Regions from separate parts of the Homo sapiens genome. Here all the other regions are linked to region 1. The links come from fine-mapping of genetic effects on gene expression. A gene starts in region 1. Each other region holds a variant in brackets. All regions are shown on one strand. Distances are from middle to middle. Region 1 holds the start of PML (PML nuclear body scaffold). Region 2 has its middle 24 kb from the start of STOML1. Region 3 overlaps PML (PML nuclear body scaffold). Region 4 has its middle 32 kb from the start of LOXL1-AS1.

The links. PIP is the estimated chance that this variant, and not a neighbour inherited with it, causes the effect.
Region 2: its variant is fine-mapped to the expression of PML in whole blood (INTERVAL, PIP 0.93).
Region 3: its variant is fine-mapped to the expression of PML in whole blood (INTERVAL, PIP 0.96).
Region 4: its variant is fine-mapped to the expression of PML in whole blood (TOPMed, PIP above 0.99).

The regions. Positions count from the first base shown.
Region 1 is chr15:73,991,889-73,996,888 of GRCh38, forward strand. It overlaps PML (PML nuclear body scaffold), which reads left to right and starts at 2,828. Exons shown (of 9, transcript NM_033238.3): 1 at 2,828-3,053. The coding sequence starts at 2,925. It overlaps STOML1 (stomatin like 1), which reads right to left and starts at 407. Exons shown (of 7, transcript NM_004809.5): 1 at 203-407. The coding sequence starts at 335. RefSeq lists a silencer at 74-633 and an enhancer at 3,241-3,410.
Region 2 is chr15:73,965,187-73,971,596 of GRCh38, forward strand. No RefSeq gene overlaps it. Among named protein-coding and RNA genes, the nearest start is that of STOML1, 24 kb to the right of the region's middle. RefSeq lists a silencer at 740-889. The variant A/AG (reference allele first, on the strand shown) is at 2,855.
Region 3 is chr15:74,015,662-74,022,071 of GRCh38, forward strand. The region is part of intron 2 of PML (PML nuclear body scaffold); the gene reads left to right. Among named protein-coding and RNA genes, the nearest start is that of PML, 24 kb to the left of the region's middle. RefSeq lists a silencer at 3,528-3,698. The variant C/CA (reference allele first, on the strand shown) is at 2,661.
Region 4 is chr15:73,956,743-73,963,152 of GRCh38, forward strand. No RefSeq gene overlaps it. Among named protein-coding and RNA genes, the nearest start is that of LOXL1-AS1, 32 kb to the left of the region's middle. RefSeq lists an enhancer at 1-1,197. The variant T/C (reference allele first, on the strand shown) is at 3,325.

The DNA.
Region 1 (5,000 bases):
AAGCCCCATGACCCTAGGGAGGGCGGATCGGCGCTAGCACCAGGCGCCGGGTCCAGCCCCCTCTCCACATCGTATCCCTTTCTCAGTCCCCCCTCGTAGGGTGCGACGGCACCGGGCCGGCCGACTCCTCGGAGGCAGAGATTCGGGCCTGGGGGTTGCCGGCCGGTCCCCCCCGGCTCCGCCGTGCCAGGCGGCCACTCACCGGCCCCTGTCCCCACGCCGCCCCGCTCCGGGGACAAGCAGCCCTTCTGCGAGCCCAGAAAGCCGAAGCTCGACTGCTGGAAGCGGTCAAAATCACCCAGGGGCAGCGCCCGGTACCCAGACCTGCCGAGCATGGCTTTTGACAGGAGACACGCCCCGCGCCTCCGCGCGGCGCCCTCCCTGGCCAGTGGGCCCTACGCGGCCCCGCCCTCCTGGCTGCTGCTTCCGGCTTCACCCGCGCGGCCACCCGCGGCGGCGCGGGCGCAGGAAGAGGAGGCCGGCCGGGGCCCGCTTCCGCCGTCGCATGGCTCCCCCTGCGCTGGGAGGACCGAACTGCAGCCCAGGGCTACTGGGTGTGATCGGCGTTCCTCGGACCCCGCTGGGGTCATCGCCTCCTCCCCTCTTCTCCTACTCAGCCCTAGAAAAGCTGGAGGGGAAGCTGGGCACGGTGGCTCACTCCTATAATCCATCAATTTGGGAGACTCAGGCAGGAGGATCGCTTGAGGCCAGGAATTCAGGACCATCCTGAGCAACATAGTGAGAGCCCATCTCTACAAAAAATTTTTAAAAATTAGCCTGGCGTGGGATGCCTGCCTGTGGTCCCAGCCACTTGGGAGGCTGAGGCGGGAGGATCTCTTGAGTCCAGGAGTTTGAGGCTGCAGTGAGCTATGATCGTGCCACTGCACTGCAGTCGGAGCGAGAGAGCAAGATCTCATCAGGGTTTACAGGAAGCCAATCTTCTCCAGGATCAAGGACATGCTATATCAGCCTTCTCAGCACTCCTTCTCTCACACTGGAGGCAGGACATGCCATATCTGGACTTTGGGTTTCTCTGGGACATAGTCTGCAAATTATTCCTCTTTGTGAACCCACAGCCCAGCAAGCAGGGACTGGCATAGGGCAGGTCTCAATACTTATTTGTTAAGTAATGGCCTGGCCAGGTCACCGTGATCAAGGTGGAGTAGGAAGGCCTGAACTTTGGCACAAAAAGAAAGAAGTTTCACATGCAGACTTCGGGGAGCATGGGAGTGTAAGGAAGAAGGGGATAGCACAGAGCTACATGAGGGCAGGGGCCCCAGAGCACCACAGAGGTGAGGCCCTCAGTCCTGCAGGTCCAGAAAGAGCATGCCCCTTGATCCAGGTACCTGGAATTAACTTGCCTCTCCAGGGCTTGAGAAAACCTGAATGCAACTCGTGAATTTCCTTTGAGAAGTGTTAACTTCCAACAGGACTTTGGGGTAGTCTGGGAGCAGGCTATCTTCCAAAGCAAGCAAAGAAATGAATAAAGCTTCCCCAGCTCTGCCTCCTCAGCCAATCGCCTCTGGCCTCCGAAGCCCCATCCTGCCATAGCCCACTTCCAGGTCCCTTGTGCAGATGGCTGCCCACCATATTTGGCTTTCATGGACTGATTCTCTAAAGGCCTGGGAGTACTGACCAGGCTGGAGGGAAGGGCAGGCTCCTGAGGCCTTACAGTCCCTAGGAAGTTGCGTATCTGCCCAACCCCTGCTCTCCACCCTGCAGACTGTAAGGTTTACAAGAGCCAGGCCCTATCATCATCCTTTCTAGTCTGTTTCTAAGTTGGAACAGAGTACGGAATGGGTACACAGGAGCCAGCACAGTGGTTGCGATGGTTTAAGTTTGAAGCCGGGGCGCTGACCCAGTGAGGTCACCTGGAACTGTGCCCCTTTCCCCTTACCAGCTGGGAGTCTGACATGCTTTTCCATTGGCGAAGACCTAGCTGGCTCTCCCCTCACCCTCTTCATACCCGCTCTCCAGCTCTCCCCCTCCCTCCTGCCCCCACCACCTCAGATCCACCAGCCTTTCCAGCTGTCACTCAAGGCATCATCCTGCTCCCTCACCTCCAGTCACTGGCTTCCCAGGATCTCTGAATCAAGTCCCTCCTCTGCATCCCACAGCCACTGTCCTAGACCAGGGCACCTGCTCCTAGGTTGTCAGAGTGACTGTCCCATCATGCACAGCTGATCGTGTTGTTCCCTGGTTCCAAATCCTTCAGCAACTTCCCATCACTCACAGAACTGGTTCAATCTCCTCAGCTAGGATCTTGTCCTAGCACACTCCTTGGGTATCATTTCTCATGAATTCCCTCTTAAATCTGAAAATGGCCAAAATTAGTTCCCAAACAGGCTTTTGCAAGAGCTATCTTTTCTGTTTCAAGTGTCCCCCGTACCCCACCACCTACAACCCTAAATCCCTGGTGAATTTCCACTGCTTTTGCAGGTCCCAGCTGTGGGCTCTCCTTTCCAGAATGTCTCCGTTTGCAGGCTTGCTCTTCCATTACATCTACGGCTCTTAGAAAGCAGGGGCTGCGTGTGGCTCATCTTTGTACGCCCAGCTCCCGGCAGGACGTGGCACGAAGCAGTGCCAGTGTGAACGGATGAATGGATCAAAGCCGGGAGCAGGGCTGCCCCCCTGCAGCTCTGCCCTACCTCTCCCGCTTTACCGTAAGTCAGCGGTAGGTCTGCAGCTCTCCGCCTCTACCTCCTCCCCGCTCTGGGCGTGTCTTTAAAACCCACAGTCGGCCTCTCTGCCCCCTAGAACCGCCCCCAGCTTCTGTCTCACTTCCTCTCCAGAGGCGGGCCCTGAGCCGGCACCTCCCCTTTCGGACAGCTCAAGGGACTCAGCCAACTGGCTCACGCCTCCCCTTCAGCTTCTCTTCACGCACTCCAAGATCTAAACCGAGAATCGAAACTAAGCTGGGGTCCATGGAGCCTGCACCCGCCCGATCTCCGAGGCCCCAGCAGGACCCCGCCCGGCCCCAGGAGCCCACCATGCCTCCCCCCGAGACCCCCTCTGAAGGCCGCCAGCCCAGCCCCAGCCCCAGCCCTACAGAGGTACTATTGGGTTAGGGGATGATGGGGTTAAGCTTTGTTGGTTTGCTGTGGTGGGGAGAGGCGGGAAGAGAGGGTCTAACGGAGGATTTGGTCAAGTACCCTAGAGAGTGACACAAAGCGGGAAGTCCAGACACCAGGGTCCTGACCGTCTCGGGTGGGGCAGGGAAGGGAGGGTAGGATAGAGTAGAAAAGAGGACACGGAGGAGTTGGGGCGGCCTCGCTGGGCTGCGGTTTCTCCACTGAGCAGTTGGGCAAGGTGAGAAGGGTCAGTGGCCTCCGGGCCTGGGCCCTTCCGCCCACCCTCGAGCCCTGCCTCAACTTTGCCTCAGATGCAGGACTTCAGATTAGGGAGGATGGAGGTAGTACCCCTGTTGCGCTGGCCTGGAGCCAGGGGCATGTCCCAGGCACGGCAAAACTAAAACCAACTTCCCAGATCCGAGGTGAGAAACTGGCTCAGACTGAAGAGGTATCTTTGCCAAGGCCTCCCAGCTCATGTGGTTTCTGCTTAAGGAAGCCTCCCCAACGAACCCTTCTCTTGCCACACCTTTCCTGCCCACCTCCCACCTCCCCCGACAAAGGAACTACTTGGGTTTCTTGCTCTGCTGCCTTTCAGGCCCTTTTACTCCCCTTCATGAAAGTACAGAGGACACCGTATTACAGTAACTTTTATAAACATTATTACAACTAAGAATAACATTACTTAACAATACTAGGTAACATTTATGAGCACTTCAAATGTGCCAGGTACTGTATTAAGCACTTTGGTTTTTTTTTGTTGTTGTTTGTTTGTTTTGCTTTGTTTTTTGTTTGTTTGTTTATCTGTTTGTTTTTGAGACGGAGTCTCACACTGTCGCCCAGGCTGGAGTGCAATGGTGCGATCTCGGCTCACTGCAACCTCCTCCTTCCGGGTTCACGCCATTCTCCTGCCTCAGCCTCCCGAGTAGCTGGGATTACAGGCCACGCCACCATACCTGGCTATTTTTTATATTTTTAGTAGAGATGGGGTTTCACTATGTTGGCCAGATTGGTCTCTAACTCCTGACCTCGTGATCCACCCACCTCGGCCTCCCAAAGTGCTGGGATTACAGGCATGAGCCACCATGCCCGGCCTGTTTTTGTATTTTACAAAATGTGGTAAAATATACCTAATGGATAAGTTCCTATGTTAACCATTTATAAGTGTACCATTCAGTGGCATTAAGTAGATTCACAATATTGTGTAACCATCACCACCATCTATTTCCAGAACTTTTTCATTACTCCAGAAACTCTGTACTCTTTAAACCATAGGGGAGGGAAAGATGGCTTGCCTCCACCCTTCTAGTTTCCTTGGCTGGGCTATGAATTAAATAGCCTATGAATTAAATAGTCATAAAATAGATTACCAGCGGAAAACCCATATTTAATTACATATGTATACTCAGGAGTCCCACAATATATGAGACTCAAAGAAAGGTCAGATGATTGAAGCCTGTATAACATCCTGAGCTACGGAAAAGAGCTTGGAGCTTCTGGGTGATGGTGATAACACAAGTTATGGGAGGGTGAGGAGAGGAGCTGTTTGGTGAATAGAGGTTGTCTTGCTATGTAGATTAAAAGTTCTTAGATAATAAAAGTTGTCTGGAGCAGCCCTCTTTTAATATAGATCATTTTACTAATGTAGATTTTCTTTTAAGATATAAATGCCTTTCTTTTTTACAAAAGGAGAGCTTTTCAGAGCTATTCCTGTATCAGCAGTTTCTCAGAATAACCAGCTTAAAATATGCCAAAGAAGTATATTTCAAGAGCCTCCTGCAGTCATACTTTGAAGTGGTGTGTCCTGAGCCCCAGTAATGCAATAGCTCCTCATTTTCTCCTTCCCCTAGCCCTTGGTAACTTCTAATCTACCTTCTGTCCCTATGAACTTACTTATTCTAGATATTTCATGTAAGTGGAATTGTTACCAGT
Region 2 (6,410 bases), 26 kb before region 1:
CAGAAGCAGTGGATCTTCGTTTCTGCCTCTCCCGCAGCAGCCCTGGGGCCAGAGAGTGCAGCCTCCCACGTGGTTTTGCCCAGAGAGAATCGTCCTGGGGAAGCAGGTGGGGGTCGCTGCACAGCAGTCAATCACCGCTTGAGTGCTTGTGCCACCAGCAAGGGGGAGGGGTCTCTCCCGGCTCCCCCTCTGCCTCCAGTCTTTTTCCTGCAGTGAAGGCCTGTGCAAAAAGCTCAGAAGGCAGGGCAGACTCCCTCCTGCCCACCACATGCTCTGCCCAAGACAGTTGGTCTTGCCTTTCCTTGGAGGGGCTTGTCACTCTTTGGAATTCAGTTCTCTTGGTTGCCTGCCACCTCAGCTATCTGACTGGTTTAAGAAATTATGGTTTTGCAAATTATCTGGTGTTTTGTTATTGTTAGAGTCGGGGGGCGGGGTGGTTCATTCCTGTACTCCCAGCACTTTCGGGGGTGAGGTGGGTGGACCCTTTGAGCCCTGGAGTTCAAGACCAGCCAGCCTGAGCAACATGGGGAAACCCTGTCTCTACAAAAAAAAAAAAAAAAAAAAAAAAAAAATTAGCCAGACATGGCGACAGGAGCCTGTAGTCCCAGCTACTCAGGAGGCTGAGGTGGGATGATCACTGGAGCCCCCCCAGAAAAGAATGGGAATGATGTTCCCTTGTGGTTTTTCTATATCCTAAGAGGAAATAAAACACTCTTCTCTTTCACTTTTAACATATGCAAATGAGTGACTCTAAATGCCTTCTAGGGCAATGTCTCATGGCTTACAGTGCCTCGTGGTTTTTCTCATTTCTTTCATGATTGCAGCTGTATTTGCTACCACTTGTGCAGCTGACATTTACCAAGCCCTTACTGTGTTCCAGCATGCTTTCATTTAGAACCATCCCTGACTCCTCTTTTCTCTCAAACCCACGTTCAATTTGTCAGATAATCCTGTTGGCCCCATGTTCAAAATATAACCAGTTCCTTTCAAAAATAAAAATGGACTTATCATAAAACCCGGCAATTGCACTGTCATGCATTTTTCCCAGAGAAATGAAAACTTATTTTCATGGTGGAACTTGTACACAAATGTTCATAGAAGCTTTATTTATAATAGCCCTAAACCAGAAAATACTCACAAACTATGGTATATTCATACCACAGGATACTATTCTGCTGTAGAAGGAATGAACTATTGGTACAAGCAACAACTTGGATGAACTTTTGCTGAGTGAAAAAGCCAGCCTCAAAAGGATACATCACTGCATGATTCTATTTACACGGCAAATAATATAATTAGAGAGGGAATAGACTAGTGGTTGTCAGGAGTTAGGAATGTGTATTAGTCCGTTCTCCTCTTTCTATAAAGAAATACCTGAGACTGGGTAATTTATAAAGACAAAAGGTTTAATTGGCTCATGGTTCTGCAGTCTGTACAGGAAGCGTGGTGGCTTCAGCTTCTGGGGAGGCCTCAGGGAACTTACAACCATGGGGAGGGCAAAGGAGGAGGCAGGCACCACTTACATGGCCAGAGCAGGAGGAAAAGAGATGGGAGGTGCTACACACTTTTGAACAACTAGATCTCATGGTGCTAATCCATTCATGAGAACTCCACCCGGTTTGGTGGGGACCCAGATCAGTACCATATCAGAAGGGAGGGGAGGGTGTGGCTGTAAAGGGGTTACACGAGAGGCTTTGTGGTGATGGTACAGTTGAGCACCTCGGTCATTCTGGTGGCTACTCCAGGCTACACATAGGGCAAATTTACATAGAGCTACTTTGTGGTTGGCTGGGTGCGACGGCTCACATCTGTAATTCCAGCACTTTGGGAGGCTGAGGTGGGGGGATGACGAGGTCAGGAGGTCGAGACCAACCTGGCCAACACGGTGAAACCCCGTCTCTACTAAAAATACAAAAATTAGCCGGGTGTGGCAGTGTGTGCCTGTAATCCCAGCTACTCAGGAGGCTGAGGCAGAAGAATTGCTTTAACCCGGGAGGAGGAGGTTGCAGTGAGCCAAGATTGTGCCACTGCACTTCAGCCTGAAAACAGAGTGAGACTCTGTCTCAAAAAAAAAAAAAAAAAAAAGCTTTTTTGTGGTCTTTGTGCTGATACCAAATAAGTGGTATCATTTCCAACACCAATCGATTTTCTGCTTCTGTGATACCAATTGGGTGTTCAATAATTCAATTCTATTCTGATACTAACCTGGAGTTAGTGTCAGACTCCACAGGCTGAAGGGCTCAGTCCCATAAGACTACCCCCATTTCTCCCAGGCGCAGTGGCTCACACCTGTAATCCCAGCACTTTGGGAGGCTGAGGCGGGCGGATCACCTGAGGTCAGGAGTTCGAGACCAGCCTGGCCAACATGGTGAAACCCTGTCTCTACTAAAAATACAAAAATTAGCCAGGCCTGGTGGCGGGCACCTGTAATCCCAGCTACTCGGGAGGCTGAGGCAGAAGAATTGCTTGAACCCAGGAGGTGGAGGTTGCAGTGAGCTGAGGTCACGCCATTGCACTCCAGCCTGGGCAACAAGAGTGAAACTCCATCTCAAAAAAAAAAAAAATGGCTGGGTGTGGTGGCTCATGCCTGTAATCCCAGAACTTTGGGAAGCCGAGGCAGGCGGATCACCTGAGGTCAGGAGTTCGAGTCCAGCCTGGCCAACATGGTGAAACCTCATCTCTACTAAAAGTACAAAAATTAGCCAGGAGTGGTGGCGAGTGCCTGTAATCCCAGCTACTTGGGGGGCTGAGACAGGATAATTGCTTGAACCCAGAGGCGGAGGTTGTGTGAGCCGAGATCGTGCCACTGCACTCCAGCCTGGGTGACAGAGTGAGACTCGATGTCTCCAAAAAA[A/AG]CAAAACAAAACAAAACAAAACTACCCCCATTTCACATGCCAGTCACAAGTACTGGGTCCCCAGGTTACCCACACTTCTGTCCAGCCAACTACAAATTTGGAGGTTCCCGTGACCTCCATTCCTCAGGTTTGATAATTTGCTAGAATGGCTCACAGAACTCAAAAAAACACATTACTTCACCATTACTGGTCTATTGTAAAAGATACAACTCAGGAACAGCCAAGTGAAGAGATGCATAGGACTGGGTATTGTAGGGTGGGTGTGCAGAGCCTCCCTGCCTGCTCTGGGCGTCACCCCTCCAGCATCTCCATGTGTTCCAACCCAGAAGCTCTCCAAACTCCATTGTTTTGGAACTTTATGAAGGTTCCATTACAGAGGCATGATTGATGAAATCATTGGTCATTGGTGACTGAACTCCATCCCTAGCCACTGTCCACTCCCTGGAGGTCAGAGAGTGAGGCTGAAAGTTCCAACTCTCTCATCATCAATCATGGCTTAGTCTTTCTGATCAGCAGCCTGTATCCAGAAACTATTTAGGGTCCTCATTAACATAAGCTCAGGTATGGTTGAAAGGGGTTTGTTATGAATAACAAAACATCACTGTAACTCAGGAAATTTTAGGAGGGTTTTAAAAGATCTGTGCCAAGAACCAGGGACAAAGGCCAACTCTATTTTTCTCACTATATACATGATTTCCCATTTCCTACAGGCACACACAAACACACACACAAATGGGTGCGTGCATAACTGGTTAGATCTGAATAAACTCAATGGATTGTGCCGATGTTCCATTTCTTCGTTTTGATACTGTACTCTGGTTATGTGAGTTGTTCGCATGAGAGGTAGGGAACATGGGACTTCTCTCTACATTCCTTTGTGACCTTCTGTGACCCTACAATTATTTCAAAATTAACAACTTAGAATACAAATAACCAGAGTCCACCTCCCGCCCTGCTACCAGCCTGGTCCACACCACTCTCTTTTCTTGCCTGGATTATTGCAACAGCCGCTTTTTTTTTTTTTTTTTTTTTTTTTTTTTTTTTTTTTTTGAGATGGAGTCTTGGAACAGTTTCTTAATGGGTCTGCTTTTACATACAATCTATTCTCAATAAAGCAGCTTCGTAAGACAGATCCTACCATTTGTAGAAATAAACAAAAACCATTCAGAGCTTGCTGTAGCAAGGTTGTCAGCCAGCATCACTTGCATTTTTGTAGGGACTCAAAATCAGGCTGAGCCTTATTGTCGGTGGGCCGGGGGTAGGGGTGCGGGAAAGGAGGTGGGGGAAGGCTTGGGGTGTGCCCTGATTGGAGGCTATTGGCCTGGAGAAGCTGGGTGGGATAATTTGGAGGGGATTCTGAGATTGGCTGGGGAGGGGTGGGTGCATATTTGGCTTTCTCTTGCTGGCCCTAAGTTGGAAGCTGGGACAAAAATTAGGGAAGCTGCCAGTTTTTAATCAAGTCCTGGCCTTTCGGGGCTGATTGTTAGAGAAGTTATTGTTTTGCTTCCTGGATGGCTACTGGAGATAGTGATCTGGCTTCCTTCATGTCTGACTTATAGCAGACTGGCATCCTGGGCTGTGGATTCCAGATGAGGGGGTTGGTTTCCTGGGCAGCTTGCTGCAGGTTAGGCTCAGAGTTCTAGTTTCCACAGGGTCTGGCCATGGTGCACGTGTATGTTCAGTCCCTCATGTTCCTCTGCTTAGAACCCTGCAGGGGCTCCCACTGAACACAGCCCTTCCTGTGGCCTACCAGGCCCTACATGAGCTGGCCCCATTTCCCCTCTGGCCTGGTCTTCTGCCACTCTCCTCCCTCTCTCCATCCCAGCCACAATGGCCTCCTTGCTGTTCTAGAACATGCCAGGCCCTCTCCCAAGGCATTCATGGCCTTCTAACATACTGTATGCCTTTCTTATTTTTCTCTCTCTCTCTGTTTCTCACTCTCTCTCTCTCTATATATATATATGTATATACGTACGTATATACCTATATGTATATACATATACACACACACACACACACACATATATATATGTGTGTGAGACAGAGACTCACTCTGTTGCCCAGGCTTGGAGTGCAGTGGTGTGGTCCTAGCTCACTGCAGCCTCAAACTCCCGGGCTCAAGCTATCCTCCCACCTCAGCCTCCCAAAGAGCTGGGATTACAAGCAGGAGTCAATGCACCCGGCCTCCTTTCTGATTTTTAATGCTTATTGCTTATGTCTAGCTCTCACAACTAGAATGTAAATTCCACAAGGACAGGGTTCTTGGTGGGTTTGTTCCCTACTATATCCTTGGCACCTAGAACATTGCCTTGCCCAGCACATAGTGAGTGCCCAATAAAAAATGTTTGAGTGAATCAATGAGTTTGTGCGTACATGTGTGCAGATACATTTACTAACATCTACTACTTCTAATTAGGTGCTCAGTGTTTACTAGACACTATGCTAAGTGCTTTCATCTAGTATCTAATTTTTATTCTTCATAGCTTTCCTATGGGTAGGTGACATCAGGCCACTTATCTTTCAGGTAAAGTGGTCTCAGAGGACATGCTGAAAGCCCATGAGCTTCTCAGGGACCTAAATAAATGTTTAAAACCTGAGAAAAGTCTTGGCTCCAAAATGTAAAAACTACAGAATCATCCAAATTAATAAATGTTTAATCAAATGTCTACAAAGTGTCATCGATTGTTAATTTATGTCATTAATTCTCTATTGGCCTCTTTAATTATTAAATGCAGTGTTCATAAGAATTTCATTACTTTTGAAAAGAATTTGTAGACTAGATGTTAACTCTTGGAGCACAGTCATGTATCTGTTAACCACAGGAATACCATCAGAAAAATGTGTCATTAGGTGATTTCAATGTTGTACAAACATCAGAGAGTGTCCTTACACACTCTGTGATGTGTAGCCTGCTACACACTTAGGCTATAAGAGATAGACTATTGCTCCTAGGCTACAAACCTGTACAGCACGTGACTGTACCGAATACTGTAGGCAATTATAATACAATAATAAGTATTTGTGTATCTAAACATAGCTAAACATAGAAAAGGCACAGTAAAAATATCATATAAAATATTTAAAATGTACACCTGTTTAGGGTACTTACCATGAATGGAGCTTGCAGGACTGGAAGTTGCTCTGGGTGAGTCCGTGAGTGAGTGGTGAATGAATGTGGAGGCCTAGGACAATACTGTACACTACTGTAGACTTTAAAGACACTGTCACCTAGGCTACTACACTAAGTTTATTAAAAATATTATTCTTTGGCAGGGCGCGGTGGCTCACGCCTGTAATCCCTGCACTTTGGGAGGCCGAGGTGGGTGAATCACCTGAGGTCAGGGGCTCGAGACCTGCCTGGTCAACATGGTGAAACCCCATCTCTACTAAAAATACAAAAAATTAGCCAGGCATGGTGGTGGGCACCTGTAATCCCAGCTACCAGGGAGACTGAGGCAAGAGAATCACTTGAACCTGAGAGGCGGAGGTTGTAGTGAGCCGAGATTGTGCCATTGCACTCCAGTCTAGGCAACAAGAGCAAAACTCTGTCTCAAAA
Region 3 (6,410 bases), 24 kb after region 1:
AGCAGGGATGTCCTGTGCCATGTGTAATACCCCCTCTTCTTTCATAGCTCCAGAATGTCCAATGACTACATAGCACTGTGCTGAGTCCTTCACATACACCAGCCTGTCTTTGTGCTTGTAACAGTCTATAAGGGAAGCATTATTACTCCCATTCTACAGGTGGGGAAATTAAGACTCAGAGAGAAAAGGTAATTTGCTCAAGGCCTTGTAGCTAGAAATTTGGAAGAGCTAACACATACCACTCTTGGCATAGCAGTTTAGACATGGACAGCTTTAGGATGGGGAGACTGAGAACCCAGGAAACACGTTGAGGCTTCTATTAAAATACACTACTCGGCCAGGCGAGATGGCTCATGCCTGTAATCCCAGCAATTTGGGAGGCCGAGGTGGGCAGATCACGAGGTCAAGAGATTGAGACCATCCTGGCCAACATGGTGAAACCCTGTGTCTACTAAAAATACAAAAATTAGCTGAGTGTGGTGGTGCACGCCTATAGTCCCAGCTACTCAGGAGGCTGAGGCAGGAGAATCACTTGAACCCAGGAGGCAGAGGTTGCAATGAGCCGAGATTGCCCCACTTTACTCCAGCCTGGTAACAGAGCGAGACTCCATCTCAAAATAAATAAATAAATAAAAATAAATAAATAAAATAAAATACACTACTCAGGAGGCTGAGGTGAGAAGATCACATGAGCCCAAGAATTCAAGTCCAGCCTGGGCAACATAGCAAGACCCTGTCTCTGAAAAAAAAATTAACAGTGTGGCTATTTCACTGAATAATCATAAAGGGATAAATGAAACAATACATCCCAGAGACGAGAAAGAGCTTTGTTGTAATACCTAGATGGGATGTTCTTTGAGTGTTCCCCATTGCTTCCTATTTAAAGTCCAAACTCCTTTACTTAGAATTGATTATAGAAAGTTTAGGAAAATCTAAATAGGTGAAAAGGAGGGATGAGAGAAAGAGGAAACTACTATCACTCTAGACCTTTTCCTTTCCTTTTTGCTATCTCTGTGATCATCTAAAACAAAATGAACAACATTTAGTGTTGTATAACTTGCTTTTCTTATAAATAGTCATGAAGATCTTTCAAAAAAATATACAGTTTTGAATTTTTTAGGCAGTGGCATCTTTTTTTTTTTTTTTTTTTTTTGAGATGGAGTCTCGCTCTGTCGCCCAGGCTGGAGTGCAGTGGTGCGATCTTGGCTCACTGCAAGCTCCGCCTCCCGGGTTCATGCCATTCTCCTGCCTCAGCCTCCTGAGTAGCTGGGACTACAGGCACATGCCACCATGCCCGGCCAATTTTTTGTATTTTTTAGTAGAGATGGGGTTTCACCATGTTAGCCAGGATGGTCTCGATCTCCTGACCTCGTGATCCACCCACCTCGGCCTCCCAAAGTGCTGGGATTACAGGCATGAGCCGCCGCGCCCGGCCGGGCAGTGGCATCTATTGATTGTATGGTTTCTTTTATTTCTTCAGTAATTATAGTGTCTTTACTATGGTGAGAGTAAATAGTCCACTGTGTTTTCTCCTTCGAGATGTAATTTTACACATTTAACTTTGTGATTCATTGGAAGCATATATGGGTATGAAACAAGAAGCAAGGCTCTAACTTCATTCCTGCCCCCTACCCTCCTCCCTAGCCAATTTCTCTGATTCCAATTGTTGAAAACCCCTTTAATGTCCATCAGTTTGGGCTGCTGGCTGGGCGCAGTGGCTCACGCCTGTGATCCCAGCACTTTGGGAGGCAGGGGCTGGCGGATCACCTGAGGTCAGGAGATCGAGACCAGCCTGGCCGGCATGGTGAAACCCTGTCTCTACTGAAAATACAAAAGAATTAGCCAGGTGTGGTGGCGTACACCTGTAGTTCCGGCTGCTTGGGAGGCTGAGGCAGGAGAATCGCTTGAACCCAGGAGGTGGAGGTTGCAATGAGTTGAGATCACGCCACTGCACTCCAGCTTGGGTGACACAGTGAGACTCTCTCAAAAAGAAAAAAGAGAAAAAGATGGGTTGCTTTCTTTGTTATATAAAATATTACATTTCTATAGATGCCAGGGACTACATCAGGCCTATCTGGTCTGTTCTACTGATCCTTCTCTTGACTCTTGAACTAGTACCATATTCTCTTAATAATGGCATTTCTATAATGTGTTATCCCTTCCTTACACTGATTCCTCAAACATTTCTTAGCAGCTGGTCATAGTGGCTTAGGCCTGAAATCGCAGCACTTTTGGGGCCAAGGTGGAAGGATGACTTGAGCCCAGGAGTTTGAGACCAGCCTGGGCAAAATGTTGAGACTCTGTCTCTATAAAATTAAAAATTTTTTTCTTAGCTATTTTATCTGTTTGTTCCTTCATATGAAATTTAGAAACCTAGCCAGGCGTGGTGGCTCACGCCTGTAATCCCAGCACTTCTGGGAGGCTGAGGCGGGTGGATCACCTGAGATCAGGAGTTCGAGACCAGCCTGGCCAACATGGTGAAACCCCAGCTCTACTAAAAATACAAAAAAAATTAGCCAGGCATGGTGGCTCACACCTGTAGTCCCAGCTACTTGGGAGGCTGAGGCACAAGAATCACTTGAACCAGGGAGGCAGAGATTGCAGTGAGCCAAGATTGTGCCACTGCACTCCAGCCTGGGCAACAGAGTGAGACTCAGTCT[C/CA]AAAAAAAAAAAAAAAGAAAAGAAAAAGAAAGAAAAGAAATTTAGAATACTTTGGTTAAGTTTCAAAAATAATTTAAATTGCCTTAAACCTGTTTATTAACTCAAGGAGAATTAATAATCTTATAATATTTAGTCTTATCTCTTAGTAGGTTTTTGTCATTTTCTAGGTATTTTGTACCTTCTTTTTTTTAATTTAAAAAAAGTTTTTTAGAGATGGAGTTCTTGCTGAGTTGCCCAGGCTGGCCTGGAACTCCTGGGTGTAGGCAATCCTCTCACCACAGCCTCCCTAGTAGCTGGGACTATAGGCACACAATCATGGCTTTGTAGAATTTTTTAAATAGCTGCTGTGAATGGGAAGATGGATTTTTTTCCCATATTTCTTCTCATTTGCTTTGCTAAGATAGAATTATGCTATTTTTCTTTCTTAATTATTATGTAATCTAGCCACTTTGGTGAGCAATTTCTTATTAAGTTAGTGGTGTTTTTGCTTATTGTTTTGAGTATTCCAGAAGCAAATAGATGTTATTTCGCCTTTCTGAAGATACGGTTAAGTCTGGGTTCTTGTCACGGAGCCCTTCTGGGCAGTTTCCCACTTCACCTCTGCCTCCTCCAAAGTGCCAAGCACGCAGCAGGTACTCAGTGAGTGTCCTCTGAATGAAGGTAAAGGAACCGCTTGGCTAAGGTCATTCCTGGCCCTGGGTGGCAGCCCTTTGATTCAGGATCTGCACCTCAGTCTTACCAGAGGGCTGGGGGCTTTTAGACCCAGGTGTCTGATTCAGGCTAGCCACCTCACAGACACTTGCCGCCCATTTCCATCTAGAGGGAAAGCAGGGGCCAGTCACCCTAGGGAGACCCCATTCAGGACAAAAGAAGCTTAGAAAAAGGACCCAGCGGAGGCTATGGCCATCCAGAACGTCTTGCTCTCTATCCAGCCAGGCTGCCTGAGGCGTGCCCTTCCAGGCTTGGAACCCTGTCTCCAAGGAAGGGGATCCAACATCAGACACAGCCCCTCTCCCCAAGTGTCCAAGATCCAAAGGGGGAAAATAACAACTGTTTCTTATTCTCTTCCCTTTATTCCTATACCCTATAGAATTGCCCACATTTATTAGTATTCTGTTTTTTAATTTCAAAAAAAGGAATACATTCATACATTCACAAGGCTCAAACATAATCTAAAAAGGTATGCAGTGAATGTCTTACTCTACCCTCATTCCACCCATCCCATAGCCACTTTTATTAATTTGCATGTCCTTTTAATATTTATTTATTCAAATACAATCAACTATGAAGATATTCTTATTTTTCCCCATTCTTACACAAAAGGTAGCATCTGATACACACATTTCTGCACCTTGATTTCTAACTTAAAATATATATCATAATAATACAAATAGTTAGCATTTATTGAACACTCATTGTATGCCAGTCATTTTTCAAACTTTTATCCATATATTAACTCATTTAATCCTTCCAGTACTCCTATTATTAACCTCATTTCTCCATGGAGAATTTTCCTTATCAGTATATAAAGAGCTTCCTCAATGGCTTACAGCTACATAGTATTCCGTTGTATGGGTGGATCATAATTTATGTAACTAATTGCCTTGTGAGGGACACGTGGGTGGCTTCTAATTCTTTGCTATTGTGGACTGTGCTGCAGTGAATATATTGTATGGATATCATCTTGTTATGTGTAGAGATAGAGCTGCAGAGCAGATCCAAAGAAAGAGGATTGCTGGGTTAAATGCATTTGTAATTCTGATGGGTATTGCCAAATTGCCTTCTGTAGAGTTATTAGTTCTTTTCATAATTGCTTAGTATTTCTAATTAAACGTAGCATTGATGAGCACTATGTATCAGTCTGGCTGGCTAGTAGGCTCTCTGTTGGTGGTTCCAGAACAAGTTGATCTCAGTGTAGTCCCAGATGAGACCCTTTCTTCTGGCCTCAGGTGGGCTGACTTATTCCTTTTTTTTTTTTTTTTTTTTGAGATGGAGTCTTGCTCTGTTGGCCAGGCTGGAGTACAGTGGTGCAATTTTGGCTTACTGTAACCTCCACCTCCTGGGTTCAAGCAGTTCTCCCACCTCAGCCTCCCAAGTAGCTGGGATTACAGGCGCACACCACCAAGACTTATTCTTATCACTGCCGGTGAGAGTAAATTACAGCAATATTTCTGGGGAACTAACAGTATTTTCCCTGGTAATATTTGAAGAAGCAGCCTTGTAATGGTTAAGAACATGGACTCTAAGCTGGACTGCCTGGGTTTTTATATTTTCTTTCGCTGCTGTAACAAACTACCACAAATTTAGGGGCTTAAAACAATGTAAATGTATTCTGTTATGGTTCTGGAGGTAAGAAGTCTGAAACAGGTCTCACTGAGGTATATAAAGGTGTCAGCAGGCTTTGCTCCTTTGGGAGGCTCTCAGGGAGAACGTTTTCTTGCCTTTCCCAGCTTCTAGAGGCTGCCCACATTCCTTGGTGCATGGCCCCTTTCTGTCTTCAAAGCCGGCAACATCACAACATTCCCACCTCTGCATTCATCACATCACATCTCCTCTCATTCTCCTGCCTCCCTGCCCTTTCCTTTGAAAGGATTCACGTGATTACGTTGAACCCACCCAGATAATCTAGAATAATCTCTTTATCTCAAAGTCCTTAATTGAATAACACCTGCAAAGACCCTTTTGCCATAGTAAGGTGACATATTCACAGGTCTCAGGAATTTGCACGTGGACATCTTTAGAGGCCACTATTCTGCTACTACAGTTTGCATCTAGACTCTACCACTTACTAATCGTGTGATCTTGAACAAATTATTTTGCCTCTTGCACCAGTTTTCTCATCCTTAAAATGGGGATAATAATGGTATCTATTCCACTGGATTGTCAGGAGGATTGAATGAGTAAATATTTGCCAATGCTTATAATAGTATCTGAGACACAATAAATGCTATGGAAGTATCTGCTAGCTAAAATATATTAACCAGGCCAGGCACGGTGGCTCACACCTGTAATCCCAGCACTTTGGGAGGCTGGGGCGGGTGGATCACCTGAGGTCGGGAGTTCAAGACCAGCCTGACCAACATGGAGAAACCTCGTCTCTACTAAAAATACAAAATTAGCCGGGGTGGTGGCGCATGCTTGTAATCCCAGCTACTCGGGAGGCTGAGGCAGGAGAATTGCTTGAACCCGGGAGGCAGAGGTTGCGGTAAGCTGAGATGGTGCCATTGCACTCCAGCCTGGGCAACAAGAGCGAAACTCCATCTCAAAAAAAAAATAACCAAATAAAAATATTAAAATACAAACACTTTGATCTAGCAGGCCTATATTTATAATCTATTTCATAGGAACAAAAGCTTCCATGATTAGGCTATATAACTTGGATATTACTAAAGTGTTGTCCATATTGGCACCAAAAGAAAAAAAAAAGGAAAGGAAAACGAAAGAAAGAAAATGCACAAACAGGAAATTACCTGAATGCCAGCAAAACGACAGTGATTGAATCAATTGTGGCCCATCTGGGATATACCAGAGCTATTAAAGAGAATACATCTGATCTGTGCCTATGCACCTAGAGGAATGCTCTGAGTGAAAGTTCGTTGAGAGGAGGAAGTTCAAAGTAATTATATGACTTGATTTATTTCTTTCTTTTTTTTGAGACGGAGTTTTGCTCTTGTTGCCCAGGCTGGAGTGCAATGGCACCATCTGGGCTCACCGCAGCCTCCGCCTCCCGGGTTCAAGCAATTCTCCTGC
Region 4 (6,410 bases), 34 kb before region 1:
CCCATTTCCCAGCTCCTGCCAGGCTCTCCACCCATTTGTGGTCAAGGCAAGAGAGACCACACCCCCTTGAATGTCCAGGCACTGAGTCCCTGCCGGCTACTCATACGGATGGGCCCTCCCCAGCCATTCCTCACCACGGCTGCGTCCGGATCCACACCACAACCACAGCATTGTTGGAAAGCAACTGCACACCTCCCTGCAACTTCCCCTCGCATCCCCCAGACTGAGTCATGCAGGCGGTGCCCGTGGGCAGACCTGGCCAGGGTTGGCACCAGCTGGCCAGAGAGAATGAGAGGCACTGACCACACCCAGGAACCTCGCTAAAGCCCATGCATAAGGGTCAGGAGAGCAGCCAGATGCTGGGACCCAAGGGTGCCTGTGACACACACCACCCTGAAAGTTGCAGCTGAGCTTTTCTGAGAAGGATGGCAAAGTCCTGGAAAAGCTTTAACGACAAAACTCAACATATGGAAGGCAGAGGAAGCAGGTAAGGATTCTGGTCTCCTTTTATGTGAAATAGCTTTAAAAAAAACTTTTTCAAAATCACGTTTAATATGCGTTGAGCCCCCTGGCTACCAGGTGGGAAAGTCAAAGTCCTGAATCATTTACTCCCACCCTAGACACCTTGAACTTCAGAACTTCAGAGAGGAGTCCTGTGGTCTTTAGTCCTCCTGGTCACCGCTCCCTGGCTGATTCACTCTCCTCCAGGGGCGGTGTCTCCACTTCCTGCAAAGCTTGGGCACATGGGCAGCCATGTCCCTCGAGGTTCGCCACCTCCCCAGGGCACTGCCAGGAGGCACTGTCCTCGTTACTAGCAGAGCCAGAGCCACCACCACAACCATAGCCACCACCTCCCCAGCCCAGGGAACTCTCCCAGCCTCTTTCCTCGGCCTGTCTTCACTCCCTTCTAACTACTCACTCTTTTCCTCTTCCTCTCTGGGGCAACCTTCCATCATCCCTGCCATGTGCCTTGGTTCAAGGAATCAGCTTTGGATTCTGGCCCTTAAGATGAGGAGTCACAAGTACCTCCTAGGAATGAGAAAGAGGAAAAGACCTAGCAGGGGAATGCCAATAATATTAGTGACACTCACTAATTTCTTCAACACTTAGCCATGGGCCAGGCCCTGCTCTAAATGCTCTACAAAGGTTAAGCCCATTTAATCCTCACAAGAACTCTATGAGGGAGACACTGTCATTCCCATTTTGTAGATGGACAAACTGAGGCACAGAGAAGTCATGTGACTTGCCCTAGTTCCGTCAGCTAGTGAATGGGAGAGCCAGAATTCCAACACAGGCACATTTCTGGAGACAGGGCATAGGTTCCTCCAGATCCTCAAAGGCATGTGGGACCAGGAAAGAAGCCATAGGTCTGTGCTCTGAAACATGGCAAGAACACTGTTCAAACCATCCCATCATCTCCTTCCTCCACGAGTCCTCTAGAATCATGTGTGGCTCCTGGAAACCGCAGCTTGAAAAGGATTGGTGAGAAGCCTAATTCCTCCTAGAAGTAGTGTGGTAGTGTAATTCAGACTTAGATTGTTCTTTATGGGTGAGAGAGAGGGCAAATTACAATAGATAAACTGGCTGGGTGCCGTGGCTCATGCCTGTAATCTCAGCACTTTGGGAGCCTGAGGTGGGTGGATCGTTTGAGCCCAGGAGTCTGAGATCAGCCTGGGAAACATGGTGAAACCCTGTCTCTACAAAATACACAAAAATTAGCGGGGCTTGGTGGTGCACGCCTATAGTCTCAGCTATCTGGGAGGCTGAGGTGGGAGGATTGCTTGAGCTCAGGAAGTGGAGGTTGCAGTGAGTTGAGATTGTGCTGCCGTACTCCAGCCTGGGCAACAGAGTGAAGCCCTGTCTCAAAAATAAATAAATAAATCATCGGCTAGTCAACAAAATATTAATAGAAAAATATGGGATTAGAAGGGATAAGAACACAGCCATGGAGATGACTTTTGAAATTGAAGAAACTAGTGCATGCTTATAAATTGGAGTGTCCCAACATTAAATAATAATTTTCTAGTATTTCTAAATTGCCAAAATTGACTCGAGTGAAAAGCACAAAAAGACCAATTACCACAGAAGAAAATTTAAAAATTATCATCTCTAAGAAAGACACCAGCCCTAGGGAGTTTTAGCATGAGTTATTTCAAACTGGAAGAACAGTGAATTTCTGTGTTATGTAAACTCTTCCAGAGCATATGGGGAAAATGCTGAATTGATTTTATGCTTCTGAATTGATTTTATTAAGCTAATCCTAACACCAAACTCTGATAAAGATTGCTATCCTGCGCCACCCACCCTCACGCTGATAACCACAGACCAATTTTACTCCTGGCTGTGAATACAGAAGTCCTGGATAAAATGCCACCAGTGGAATCCTGTACCATTGTAATACCAGATGCAGCCCGTGTTTGGCATGCTTTCCCCTCCACCAGATGTGTGCTAGGGCAAAACTGGAACCTGATATCTGGGTCCAGGCAATTTGGACACAACATTCACTTCTGTGGTCCTAAGCGCCCCCTCTCAGGAAGCAAAGAGTAAAATGAAGCAGGTGTCCAAAGCTTGCAAATATGCAGAAAGGCTACAGCTTGGATTACTGCTGTTGACTGGCAACATAGTTAACCACAATATCCTGTTAGAGTGATCATTCATCATTTCTTTTTTTTGTTTGTTTTGAGACTGAGTCTCTTTCTGTCGCCAGGCTAGAGTGCAGTGGCGCTGTCTCGACTCAGTGCAACCTCCATCTCCCGGGTTCAAGCAATTCTCCTGCCTCAGCCTTCTGAGTAGCTGGGACTACAGGTGCCTGCTGCCATGCCCAGCTAATTTTTTTATTTTTAGTAGAGATGGGGCTTCACCATGTTGGCCAGGCTGGTCTCAAACTCCTGACCTCAAATGATCCACTCGCCTCGGCCTCCCAAGGTGCTGGGATTACAGGTGTGAACCATCATGCCCGGCTGTTATTTCTTTTCCTTGCTGAGAAGTTCTTAAGTATTTTTTGTGCTTTTTTTCCTTTTTATGGTAGGTGGCTACCTTCTCTACCTTTTCCCTGCAGGGTTTGATAACATGATTGAATAAGCAAGTCCTAATAAATGCCCTCTTTGCTGTATCAACATGCATACCCCCGAAAACTTGGGAAACAGTGCCTGTCGTGCCCTGGGAAACCGAATCCTGGGCCCAAGGGACATGATCCAGCTGGTAGTGCCCCTGTGCCAGGTGAGAAAAAGAGACCTTGCCCTCTGCTGGAGTTGCAGCAGCCTGGGAGCTTCTCAGCCAGGGAACAGATCATCGCTGCAGCTGGAGGACACCCTATTTCAGATA[T/C]GTGACATCAGAGGCCATCTCATTTCTGATTCACAGCCATTGCCCCTTCCACTTCTTCACAAAAATTCAAGTATATTAAGAAATACATATTTTTTTGAGACGAGGTCTCACTCTGTCGCCCAGGCTGGAGTGCAGATCATGGCTCACTGCAGCCTCGACCTCCTTGGGCTCAGGCAATCCTCCCACCTCAGCCTCCCAAGTGGCTGGAACTAGAGGCACGTGTCACCATGCCTGGCTAATTTTATTTATTTATTTTTTGTATTTTTTTGCGGAGACAGGGTTTCGCCATGTTGCCCAGTCTGGTCTCAAACTTCTGAGCTCAAGTAATCCTCCTGCCTCTGCCTCCCAAAATGCTGGGATTACAGGCATGAGCCACAGTGTCTGGCAAAGAAATAATCTGCATACAGCAAAATTTACCCTTTTTAGGTGAACAGTTTGATGAGTTTTGACAAATATATGCAGTGATATAAATACCCCCACAGTGAAGATGTAATACCTCCATCACTCAGGACTTCCCTCTTGCCTCTTTGTGCTCCGTTTTCTACCTCCCACCTCCAGCCCCCGGCAACCACTAAGCTGTTTTCTGTTTCTGTAGTTTTGTCTTTTCCAGAATCTCAAATATGTGGAACCACATAGTATGTGGCCTTCTATATCTGGCTTGCTTCACTTAACATAATGCTTTTTTAATTTAAATTTTATTTTTATTTATTTATTTTTGAGACTGAGTCTCACTTTGTGGCCCAGGCTGGAATGCAGTGGCGTGATCTTGGCTCACTGCAACCTCCGCCTGCCAGGTTCAAGCAATTCTCCTGTCTCAGCCTCCCAAGTAGCTGGGATTACAGGCACACACCACCATGCCTGGCTAATTTTTTATATTTTTAGTAGAGGCGGGGTTTCGCCATGCTGGCCAGTCTGGTCTCCAAATCCTGACCTTGTGATCTGCCTGCCTTGGCCTCTCAAAGTGCTAGGATTACAGGCAGGAGCCACCGTGCCAGGCCTATTTTTCATTTTTGAGACAGTCTCACCCTGTTGCCCAGGCTGAAGTGCAGTGGTGCAATCTTAGCTCACTGCAACCTCTGTCTCCCGGGTTCAAACGATTCTCCTACCTCAGCCTCCTGAGTAGCTGAGATTACAGGTGCCCACCACCACGCCTGGCTAATTTCTGTATTTTTAGCAGAGACAGGTTTTCTCCACGTTTGCCAGGCTGGTCTCTCAAGTGATCCGCCCACCTCGGCCTCCAAAGTACTGGGATTAGAGGCATGGGCCTCTGCACCCGGCCTAATCTTATTTTTAATTGTAAACTGACAAATAACAGTTGTATCTATGGAGTATGAAGTGATGTTATGATGTATTAATATGATGTTGAATAATCAAACTGAGCTAATTAACATATCCATCACCTCAAATACTGTTCTTATTTTTTGTAGTAAGAACATTTGGAATTTATTCTGTTGATAATTTTGAAATGTACATTATTTAAGATATTTGACCAGGGGTGGTGGCACATGCCTGTAATCCAAACACTTTGGGAGGCCAAGGCAGGCGGATCACTTGAGCTCAGGAGTTCAAGACCAGCCTGGGCAACATGGTGAAACACTGTCTCTACAAAAAACACAACAATTAGCTAGGGATGGTGGTGGGCACTTGTAGTCCCAGCTGCTCAGAAGGCAGGGATGGGAGGATCACCTGAGCCCAGGAGTTTGAGGCTGTAGTGAATTATGGTCTAGCCACTGCACTCCAACTTGGGTGACAGAGGGAGATCTTGTCTGAAAACAAAAAACAAAAACAAAGTGGCTACATGCTCACCAGACACATTATATCCTCTTTTTTTTTTTTTTTTTTTTTTTTTTTTTTTTTTTTTTTTTTTGAGACGGAGTCTCACTCTGTTGCCAGGCTTGAGTACAGTGGTGCAATCTCGGCTCAGTGCAACTTCTGCCCCCTGGGTTCAAGCGATTCTCCTGCCTCAGCTTCCCAAGTAGCTAGGACTACAGACACGTGCCACCACACCTGGCTAGTTTTTGTATTTTTAGTAGAGACAGGGTTTCACCATGTTGGCCAGGATGGTCTCAATCTCTTGACCTCGTGATCCGCCTGCCTCAATCTCCCAAAATGCTGGGATTACAGGCATGAGCCACTGTGCCTGGCCTGTATCCTCTTTTTAAAAGCCATTCTAGTAGGTATCCTGTGGCAGTCATCTTTCCATATTCCTGGGGACTGATTCCAGGACTCCTGAAAATAGGAAACCCCGGGCATGCTCAAGTCCCTGATATAAAATAGTGCAGCGTTTGCATATAACCCAGGCACATAACCCGCTCTACTTTAATTTATCTCTAGATTACTTATGATCCCTAATATAATTTAAATGCTATGTAAATCGTTGTTATGCTGTATTGTTTTTATTTGTATTGTTTTTATTGTTGTATTGTTATTTTTTTCAATATTTTTTATCTGTGTGTTCACTGTGCAGTTGGTTGAATCCGTGGATGTGGAACCCGTAGATACCGAGGGCTGACTGTATTTCATTCTGGTTTAAATTTTCATTTCCCTAGTGACTAACAATGTTGAGCATGTGTTCATGTGGTTGTTTGCCAGGATATCTCTTCTTTGATGAAATTTCTGTTCAGATCCTTTGCCCATTTTTAATTGGCTTGTTTGTCTCATTATTGAGTTGGAAGAATTCTTTATCTATTCTGGATACAAGTTATTCATCAGTGATATGTTTTGCAAATATTTTTTCCCAATCTGTCGTTTGTCTTCTCATTTTTTACTAGTACCTTCTAAAGAGCGGAAGTTTTTAATTTTGATAAGAGCCAATTTATCGGTTTTTTTTCCTTTTATGGGCTGTGTTTTTTGTCCTATCTAAATCTTAACTTAAACAATGTCACAAAGATTTTCTGTAAGCACTGCAATAAATGGTATCCCATGAGTTTTTAGGACTAAGTTCTAATTTTTGATTTTGCCCAAATTTCTATCTAAGGGATCTAGGGAGTCATGCCCTACAAATCCTAAATTCTCATCAGATGGGTTTTATTTATATATTGTGACTTACTTTTCAATCTGACTCTGGTATAACATTACGAGACAAG